Homo sapiens: one gene and its partners. The protein of the gene in region 2 interacts with the protein of the main gene of each other region in a biochemical or structural test. Each region holds a gene or a part of one and is shown on either strand. Other genes may lie near its edges.

Region 1 (3,654 bases), about 40 Mb from region 2:
TGTGGTGGCTCACGCCTGTAATCCCAGCGCTTTGGGAGACCAAGGCAGGCAGATCATGAGGTCAAGAGACCATCCTGGCCAACGTGGTGAAACCCTGTCTTTGCTAAAAATACAAAATACAGAAATTAGCTCGGTGTGGTAGCGCATGCCTGTAGTTCCAGCTACGCGGGAGACTGAGGCAGGAGAATTGTTTGAACCCGGGAGGTGGAGGTTGCAGTGAGCCGAGATCACACCACTGTACTCCAGCCTGGCAACAGAGTGAGACTCTGTCTCAAAATAAATAAATAAATAAATAAAATTATCTAATTCTAGAGTCTTTCTTTTTGGATGAAATTATCTGGATTTGAAATACCATATTATACCCAACACTATATTTCATACTTTGCAGCAAAATTAAACATACTATCTAATGATTTCCTTTTGAGATAGTCTATTATTGGCACTTGTTTAAAAAGTCCTTATTCACATGAATGATGTAGGCTTTAGAACTGAACACCATACAATATTGACAGTTTAAACATTGATTAGAAAAAAGTGAGAGGATTATATATTTTTAATTTCATCTGTGAAATGATATTAAAAGATCAGCATTTGATTACTGAGTACTTACATGGGAAAAAGCAATTACTAAAAATGTTAAATAAGACCATACTCAATATTCTACAAGGTTCTAAAATTAGTGGGGAATGAATTATTGGATGACCAAATTACATTATCATTGGAAGGACTTAAGTTATTTCTCGTCTTGATTTTAATCAAACATTTTCATTTGGATTAGATTAAAGAGGATATTCCTGAAACAAAGATGAAATTCTTATCAGTTGAAACTCCTGAGAATGACAGCCAGTTGTCAAATATCTCCTGTTCGTTTCAAGTGAGCTCGAAAGTTCCTTATGAGATACAAAAAGGACAAGCACTTATCACCTTTGAAAAAGAAGAAGGTATGACTAATGTTAAAAAATATGACCATGTTATTTGGAAAGCACTTTCATAGACATTTAGCTATTACTTCGCTAATATTACTTCACTTATATTATTTCTTATCCTCATAGTGACGTTCTGAGGCAGGTATGATTATTCCCATTTTACAGATGAGAAAACTGACTCTGAGACAAGTGCCTTGAATATGATCTTGTATTCAGAAAGCCATGACTGTGGGACTTAATCCAGGTGCTATGATGATGTCCAATACCAGCCTCTTTCTACTCCACATGCTACCTCCAAATAATGATAGTAATATTTCAAGGTAGTAGAGCTGTACAGTTCTCAGAGACATTATCACATTTTATACTCACACAATTCCATAAATATAGGAGGATAGGATAGTTATTATTGTGTACTTTAAATATAGACATGCCAGAGCCAAGAAAACAGATTCTGAGGATGTTTAAGTGATTTACCTAAGGGAACATAGCCAACGAATGAGAAGAGCCTGGGAGCTAGAGATTTGGAATGAAACCTAATGTTTGCTAAGTCTGCCATGGTGAGGGCCCCTGTTCAGAGCTGGGGGTTCCTGAGTGGGGAGGATCTGGCTTTGAGTGCCAGCCTTGTCCCTTCCTAGAAGCATGATTTGGGATAGGTTCTTTATAAACCTCAGGGTTTTATACAGGTGCTTCATGGTAGTACCTACTTCATGAGGCTGCTTTGAGTATTAAATGAGAAATGTTGATAAAATACTTAGCACAATGTTGGACACTTAATACAAACTTAATGGATGTTAGTTTTTGCTACATGTTAGAAATTTTTCAGATAAGGATACAGAAGCTTAAAGAAGATAATTAACTTGCTTAAAGTCTATACGGTTAGTTGCAGAGCTTAGAGCCAAACCCTGAGAGTCCATGTACTTCCACTGGGCCAATATTTCTCTCGGTAGGCCACCAGCCCAGGCCTTTGTTCTTTTATTTAAGTTATGTGGTGAGGGACCAGATGGTGTTCCCAGCCCTTCCAGTGCTCATATTCTGACAGTCTATAACCCATGTTTCCTCAAAACTGGTGCACCACTGTAGCCTGAAAATAAATGTTGAAAGGCATTCCAGCAGGACAGTATCTGTGCGTAGAAGACATGCATCGCCAGTGTGTTTTCCTTCACCCTGGAGCTACTGCTACAGGTAGAAGAGGAGTCCAGGACTCATACTGGCGACTGGTAATCGGGATATAACTAAAAGATAGATATAAATGAGGATTTGGGAGGCAGGATTTCTGCACAGCAATTTCCTGGGAATGTTGGAAATGGAATTCTCTAAAAGCACCTACATCATTGCTTCTACGCTTGACGTGGCTCTGAGCTCCCAATCTCCTGGGACAGCAGTAGGTTTGAAACACAATTAAGTAGGAGTTGGCTCTTGATTGTCAGAGTCACAACAATTGAGACACAAGCGGTCCCTCTCAGCTGTATCAGATCACCAGATGTTGGGGGTTTGTGGAAGAGTGGGAGGGAAAGAGGATCATCTGAGTATTACTCATTGATATTTTCTGTTATTGTCTGTTGTCATTAGCAAAAAAACACAAAAACACAAAAAAACAAAAAACCATCATCCAAGTTATAGAGTCATATTTTGGTACAGTGAGTTGAATTCCCACATGGCCAAGGCCCTGCCTTCTGGCCCTTTTTTCTCTTCCTCCAGCTGTGGTGTGGTGCCATCTGGTCTGGTTGTCATAAACACATGTGAAGTTTTATAAGACAGAGAGTGAATGTCACTTATTTTCATGATACATTGGAATAGCAGCCCCAAATATCAACAACTGCAGTATTATAAACTCATGCCACACAATTAAAAATAAATGCCCACTCACATTTTTAATTGACATAGAGTTGCCTTTTGGAGTGCTAGTGATTTTTAGCATTTTACTAAACCTCTCCCATTTGCACAGGTAAATTAGACTTGACAGCTTTGTGATCAATATAGCAGGACTATCAACTTTTTAAAGAATGATTTCAAGAGCATTTTTGCAAAAGTGGAATTCGTCATTAAGTATGACCAAAAAAAAGACTCACTCTTTGATGTTCCAGCCTATGTAGTCTTTAACATGTAATCCTTGAGAAGACAGAGCAAATGAATATATATTGCTCTAGTGCTTGTAACATATTAAGGAGTAACAAATGATAAGGTTAAGTAAAATCAAGACTAATTGTACAAATGACACTTAGCCATGAAAGTTTTCCCAGCTTACTGAACATGGGACACTTTCTGGCTGTGCATTAATGTACTAGGGGAATCCTCTGGTAATTGTTAATAGTGGAAGGAAGGGTATGTGGCTGAGCTGAAGTAATATATGAATTCTGGAAGATTGTTAGGCTTATCTCTTAAGAGATAAGAGAAAAGATTCATCTTATGAGAAGAATCTAGAACTTGAGAACTTCTACATTGTGATTTTGCTGATATACTTTGACATTAATATATTCTACTTTGGGACCAAGAGCAGTGGCTCATCCTGATAATACCAGAACTTTGTCTGGGAGTCCGATGCAGGAGGATTGCTTGAGTCCAGGAGTTCCAGAGCAGCCTGGGTAACAAAGTGAGAGCTCGTCTCTACAAAAAGTTAAAAAAATTAGCTAGGCGTGGTGGCATGCACCTGTAATCATAGCTATTCTGGAAGCTGAGGTGGGAGGATCTCTTGAGCCCAGGAGTTTGAGGTTACAGTGAGCTATGATCA
Region 2 (3,654 bases):
GGAAGTCATGGCCAAGGGGCAGGACAGCAAACCATTGTGAAGTCAACCCAATTTAGAGACTGATTCAACCGTTGTCTAACCAGTGCCGTGCCTATATTATGAACTCTTTTTCTTTTCTTTTCTTTTTTTTTTTTTATATTATAGCCTCTTTTAGCTCTTTAAGTCTTCTATGGGTTTAATGGGAGGCTTTAGTGGTGTATAGAGGGTGTGTGTGTGTGTGTGTGTGTGTGTGTGTGTGTGTGAAATGGATTTATTTTATTCTACAAATGAAATGAATAAAATCACCTGAAATGGAACGGAATGGCTACAGCGAGTGTCCAAAGACCACAAAACTGTTTCCTGACATGTGCTTAGCATATTTAAATTGTTCTCACAGTATCATCCTGAGAGCAGAGAGAGCAGTCCAACTGCTCCACAGGACTGCAGAGAGGGAACCAATCCATCTATTTTCTCAATAATGGTGATGACAGAGATGGAATGCTGATTGCCAAATCCCAAACACATACGGGCCTCTCACCCAAAGGCCATGATGCCTTTGTCTTAATAACAGAATAAACCCAATCCTGTACAAACAGCTTCTTCAGGGTGCATGTTTTGAATGGGGCAAAGATTAGCTTTTTGTGGGAGGCTTTCCAGGATACCGGACAAAAGCATGCACTAGAGACTCACTAGGTAGATTCAAATATTCTTTCTACCATTTACTAACTGCTTGATCTTAGTCAAGTTACATAAAAGGGGCTGTGTGGGGAGGAGGGGCTCTGTTCCCACATCTGTCAAAGTAGGAATAACAATAACACCTAACTCAGAAGGTGGCTGTGAGGACTGAATGAGTTACTACCTGTGAAGTACATGGTATACTGTAGGTGCTTAATGTCACCTATTAATGGTGGTGGTGATGATGATGTAATTTGCTCAGGAACAACAAAGGAGGTATAAAAAATCCCCCCATTTTACAGTTCCTGTGATGTAACATATTTTCTGAATAGGGCTTTATATTTATTCCATTTTTGTGCCAGGCCTATAGCAGTGTTGGGAGCGAAACTCTAGCAGGATCCTTCTTACATGCAGAAAAGGTTCATTTTACACTTGCCAATAGGAATGAAACTATTTCGCTGCCACAATAGCTAACTGTTTTTCTAAATGGCCTATTTCGTCAACAACAATCAGGAAAGTGTAGGAAGGTACAATCTCTAATGATTGTAGCCCGTGCTTAAGGTGAGGAAAAAAGTCAAAAAATTACACATGAGAAACCTGAATCCAGGCAGATCTTACTGAGGCCTTATCATCGCATTCCCCAAATGTCTGAAGAGTGACGCCCTCTCATTCTCGCTCACCTTTCCCCTCCCTGCCTTCCTCTCTTTGTTGAGCACCTACTTTTTGCCAGGCACCGGGTATACAGTAAGGAAGAAAGGCCAGTAATAACTCAGGATATTTTTTGGAAGCATTAAATAAATTTTTAAAAATGAGCTGGAATAGCTCCATGTGGAAAAGAGCTTAAAATTAAACAGCATCAGCAAAAATCCAGCCAAGCAAGCACAATCTTTAAGAGGAAGGATTTTAGGCTGAAAGGCAAACAATACTAGTTGATATACTAAAAAAGCACCCTCCAAAAGGAAGATGTTCCCTTTTGTGGACAATCATATTCCCATTTCTATCACGAATCTCATTAACTATTTCACTCCTTGAACCTTTTACTCTTGGCAAGCCCTTCACAGCCCCAGGAGCTACTTGTACAAATTAGCTCTCAAATATAAGGCAGATGAAGTAATCTCATTGCTGCTAAAGTATAATTCTCTCTAATTACTGTAACTACCAAGCGTTAGTCCCTCCCTTTCTAAAAATAACACTCCCTCCCCTAGACACAGTGATGAAATCGCATTCCGAAGAAAAACATTTGCTTATCAAAGAAATCTTAGTTCCTTAATATATGAAATTTCTACATGGACAACTTTAAAGGGGAGAGGAGGAAACCTGAATATTAGAAATGTCACTTGTTTTTTGGAAGGTGCTGAATGCGAGGAATAAAAATCCCACTGATGATGTAGGTGGTTTAAATCCAGCAGCTCCAACTTGTCATGGCTCATCTGAGCACTGCACTCTCCTTGGCTCCGCCAGGGCTCCCTCCCGCAGACAGGCCCGGGATCTGCCATGGTGCGCTCCCTGCCTCTGAGCACACACACTTATTGAGAGCTACACACAGGCCAGCCGTGGTACTCACCATACTGTCGAATTCTACAGAGCCCACTATCCGAGACACCTCGTCAAACTCCTCAGGAGACATGGGGAGCAGGTTGTCTGTGGTCTGAAGTCTAGAAGGGTGACTAAAATGGGGAAAAAGAAAAGAGCAATGTCAACATCTGAGTGATGAAAGCACTAGTGCATACTTACACACTTTATCTTTTGTCTGTAATTGAATTATCACGTTATATTTTTATTTTGGGTAAGTGCATACACTTGTAAAATACATTTGCAAAAGTACAGCTCATGGGAGGCTCATGTCCCCAGCCCAGCCCCTTGGGAAATGTTTCACACTCCAGGGATGTGATAAGCAATAGCCAGACTGGAATCTGTGCCGCTTCTGCCTGGGTAAGCCTAGGTGTGAGCATGTGCGGTGCACTACCCTGAGATGACAATGCCTCGTGGCTTACCCTGGACAGAAAAGCACCAGAGAAATGTCTGGGGAGTCCCTCATCCCTACCTTGAGGTTTGAATGCAGATAAAGCTGCTCCACACAGTGTTTTTACATGAAGGCTACATCCATTCACCCCAAGACAGTGCTGCAGGCCAAATAACTGACAATGACATTTCCAAAATTTTTTCTACCTTTTATAAAATGAAACAACAAAATCAAAGCAAGTGGAGACAGTGTATCTCAATCATTACTTTGGCCTTTTCTAGATTGAAAAGAACTACTTTCCCACTCTGATCAACTTTTGCTCATTTTATTTATACTTTTTCAAAGGGTATCAGTTTTGGGAAAATTTATATACCTTAAATACAAATTTGGTTTTTGGCTTTTTTTTTTTTTTTAAAGTAGTAAAATGCTGATAGGCAGTAACACGGGGATCTCAACAAGTTCAGCTGTGATGGCGATAGCAATTACAATGGAAAAGTAAAATACAAGCATCTTCAACAGGCCCCAGCCAGGAGCAAGGCTGGCTTGAGGTTTGTAAACATGTCACTCTTCTGTGTTCACTTACACTTCAGACACAGAAATCAACTCAGTCTTGATATATCCAGTTCCTTTAGGGCCATCAAGTTCCATTGGCTCTGGTGCTAGAAATAAACACATTGTGTACGCTTTCCATCAACCGAAATTCCATCAGAATACAACATCAACTTTTCGGGGGGATTAAAGTTCTACTGTGTTTCTAGACAGCTTAGCCTCCTAAAACTTTAAGGAGCTATAACCTCCCTGCCTGAGTCACCTAAAATTCTAGTGGGAATGCAGAAACAACGAGAAGAAGGATCTGAATTCAGTCTGGAAATAAGCTAGTGTTCAGCAGGACACTAGCTAGGAGCTTTCTCTTTACACAACTTGAAATCTTACAAGAAGTCTGAGCCCAAAATATGCAAAGTTCTATCCAGTTTATTGGCATTAGCCTGGCTAATGAATATTCACAGCTGTCAAGGTAAGCTGGGGACATCTTCATT
Region 3 (3,654 bases), on a different chromosome or scaffold from region 2:
TGGAGGAGGGACACAGCCACTGGAAAGACTGCTGAGCACCACCGGCCACCCTGCTTGCCCACAAAAGCTATTTCCCCTAGTGTCTCTCAGGCGGGCCGGCTGAACGCAGCCAGGGGCTCAGCTTACTGGCTAAGCCAGGGAGAAGGGCTCTAGAGTTAGGAACCAGACAAGAATGCAAAGCAAGTGTAACCACTGCTTGTGGATTAAGGAAATAACTTGTTTGAAGAGATTAATTAAAGGCTTTTCATAGTGAGCCAAATGAGAGCTGGCAGCTTCCTTTTCTCAGGAAAACAGTCAAGTGAAGCCTCTTTAACTGGGCTGGCATGTCCTGCAGCCTGGAAGCTGATGGACATGTATGAACCGGCCGAGGCTGCTGGGAGTCAGGCATCAGACGAATTCACACACCTGTTTTTATACATCCACCGTCACATCCATTGTGTTAACTGCTTTGCCACCTCCTCATTCTGCAACTGGCATTTCTGCTACCAGCTACAAGGCCCTTCTTGGGAAACTATAACCAAGTAGGGGGTTTTCTAACTCTTCTTCTGATAGCCACATGAAGCTGGTGAAGACAGGCGTGAGCGAGAGGAAGGGTAAGGCTAGAAGGCACTCACTTTCTGCAGGCACTCCGTCTTCTCCTTCTTCTTGTTTCGGCACTTTGCAGCTGCAATCTTATTTCTTTCTCGTCGCCTCTTTTTCCTTTCATCTTCTTCAGGGGCTACCTGTAAAATCCAAAAGAAACACATTTAAAGGGCAGTAAGAAATGCCACCTACCTCAAATACACTGCCTTTTACTGCCAGCAAAAGCTGGCAGACAAGGGCAATGCTAGCGCTAAAAGACCCCGAAATACTAAAGCTCTAGACTTTTGTGTGAAAACCCCTACACACACACACACACACACGCACACACACACACGTGAGTGAACAACAAAAATCAAAGTTAAAATTATACCGGCAATATATTAGTAAATTAAAAGTTAGCCAATTTTAAAAATGCATTTGGATTTTGAGATGAGGATAATATGCAAATTGATAACTATTGGTATTAACTATAATCATTTAAAGCCGAAACAGATTCTGTCTGGTAAACATCTCCTTTCTTTGAGAACCAGGAATGATCTCAGGATCATTACCTAGCCACCCACTCCCGGCCTCTTCTTCAATTCAAGACCCAAGGGCAACCCCATTCACCTCTGACTTCACCTGGAGCATCAGAGCACCAGCTTCCCAAATTTGGGAGAAGCCCATGATGCTCCTGTAGAAAAGGCACCTAAGCCCATTCCCAACCAAAGCGGCATTAATCGGCCCATGCTGGGGTGCCACCTGCAAGTGGTGAACTAGGACAGTCTTTTAGGTCAGTCCCACTACTCCTTGCCCAAAGGCTGCAATCATGCCAGTTGAGTAAGCCTGAAACACTTCCACTTGCCACCATGAGGAAAAGGCCAATAAAATGGTGGAACCTCAGCTCTGACATCCTTAAGCCACTATGGCATCGCCAGAAGCCACCTCCCAGACTTCTCACCATGTTTATTATTCCAGGAGTCTTACCCAAGGTTGCCAAGCGTGGAACAGTGCAAGTGTGTCAGACAGAAGTGAACCTGGAGCAACACCTGGTCCCAAGGCTGTGAACATTGCTACAGGGAAGGGTGGGGCAGGCTGCCTGGTCCTTGCTCTACTGTCTGGGTGCTTGGGTCCTAGTAGTGATAAAAACAGGGACCACCACGCTCCAAGCTTCTTCAGAACAACTGGACACAGAAGGTGGCCTCATCCTGACTCATGGCTTTAAGTGCCATCTATATGCCGATAATTTCCAACTCTATTATCTCTAGCCCAGACTGTCCTCTGAACTCCAGACTCACATATCCAACTGCCTGCTTGACATCTCCACAGGGGTCTGCAGAATAGGACAGACCTCCTGCTCTTGCCACCACCCTAACCCCTATAATCCCAAATCTCAGCAGCAAATGGACGCTCCATTCTTACAGCTATGCTGGCCAGAAAACTCAGTCACCCTTGAGTCTTCCCTTTCTCTTACACCCCACATCCAATCTATCAGCAAATCAGCTTTACCTTCAAGTCAGATCCAAAGCCAACCACTTCTCAGCACCTGCACTGCTCCCTCCTGCTGCAGGCCCCCTGACTCACGTGGATTCCTGCCACGGCCTCCTTTCTGTGCACTCAGCTTCTGTCTTACCCCTACTGCCCATTCTCAACATGACAGCCAGGGTGATCATTTAAAAATATAAATCAAGGCTGGGCGTGGTGGCTCACACCTGTAATCCCAGCACTTTGGGAGGCCGAGGCGGGCGGATTACCTGAGGTCAGGAGTTCGAGACCAGCCTGGCCAACATGGAGAAACCCCGTCTCTACTAAAAAAATTCAAAAATTAGCCAGACGTGTGGCGGGCACCTGTAATCCCAGCTATTTGGAAGACTGAGGCATGAGAATCCCTTGAACCTGGGAGGCAGAGGTTGCAGTGAGCCAAGATCATGCCACTGCACTCCAGTCTGGGTGACAGAACAAGACTCTGTCTCAAAAAAAAAAGTGTGTGTGTGTATCTGTGTGTGTGTGTGTGTGTTGAATCTTGTTGCTTCTCTGCTCAAAAGCCTTCTGTGGTTTCCCACCTCACTTTGAGCCCAGGGCTGCATCTATACAATAATAATCTGTAAGACCCAATATGACCAGCCCCTATTTATCTCCCACCCCTATACTCTGCCCCACTGCACAGCCCACCAGGCACCAATACTTCCACCTCAGTGCCCTTAATTTCTTTTACCAGATACCCACGTGGCTTCTTCCCTCTCCTCTTTCCTTCTTCCTTTCCTTTTGACCTCTGCTCAAAAGTCACTATCAGTGAATCCTTACCTGACTTCCTAATTTAAAACAGCAACCCCGGCTGGGTGCAATGGCTCATCCCTGTGATCCCAGTGTTTTGGGAGGCTGAAGCAGGAGGATCGCTTGAGCCCAGGAGACTGAGGCTACAATGAGCCGTGATCACCCCACTGCACCCCAGCCTGGGTGATGGAGCAACACTGTCTCTAAAAGCAAAATGAGTCTTGCTCCATCACCCAGGCTGGAGTGCAGTGAGGTGATCACGGCTCATTGCAGCCTCAACCTCCTGGGCTCAAGCGGTCCTCCCACCTCAGCCTCGCAAGTAGATGAGACTATAGGCCATGTACCACCTTGCCCAGCTAATACTGTCATAGAGATTGGGTTTCATTGTGTTGCCCAGGCTGGTCTCAAACTCCTGGACTCAAGCGATAATCCCATCTTGGCCTCTCAAAGTGCTGGGATTATAAGCGTGGGCCACCATGCCTGGCCTGAAAAGTTTTTAAACCCAGCAACCCCATCCCTACCCGTTCTCTCTGCCCCGCTCCCTGCTTTTTTCTCCTTTGCACTCATCTCTTAACGTGTACTTACGTATGTTATGTACTTCTGTCTCCTCCCAGGAGAAGGTAAGCTCCCTGAGGGCAGTGGTTTTGTTTGTTTCACTCTCAACAACAGCCCCCTGCCTAGAACATGCCCAACACACAGTGGCTGCGAGCGAAACATGTGCCGAAAGAATGAATACCTGTGATAGAACCCACCTCGGCTTTTGTGATGGACACCCCGAGGGGTCTGTCGCTGACAGTGACTGATTCCAGCGCAGAGGAC

The links.
Region 1: the proteins of STAT1 (region 2) and NMI form a complex in vitro, tested with the Homo sapiens proteins (one study listed by BioGRID).
Region 3: the proteins of STAT1 (region 2) and ATF3 form a complex in vitro, tested with the Homo sapiens proteins (one study listed by BioGRID).

The regions. Positions count from the first base shown.
Region 1 is NC_000002.12:151,276,115-151,279,768, reverse strand, and holds part of NMI (N-myc-interactor), read left to right. Parts: intron 1-778; coding exon 779-941; intron 942-3,654. UniProt on the Homo sapiens protein: Acts as a signaling pathway regulator involved in innate immune system response.
Region 2 is NC_000002.12:190,972,612-190,976,265, forward strand, and holds part of STAT1 (signal transducer and activator of transcription 1-alpha/beta), read right to left. Parts: intron 3,301-3,654; coding exon of another isoform or gene 3,277-3,300; coding exon 3,201-3,276; coding exon of another isoform or gene 3,197-3,200; exon of another isoform or gene 2,927-3,196; intron 2,322-2,926; coding exon 2,219-2,321; intron 1-2,218. UniProt on the Homo sapiens protein: Signal transducer and transcription activator that mediates cellular responses to interferons (IFNs), cytokine KITLG/SCF and other cytokines and other growth factors.
Region 3 is NC_000001.11:212,615,195-212,618,848, reverse strand, and holds part of ATF3 (cyclic AMP-dependent transcription factor ATF-3), read right to left. Parts: coding exon 3,588-3,654; intron 723-3,587; coding exon 615-722; intron 1-614.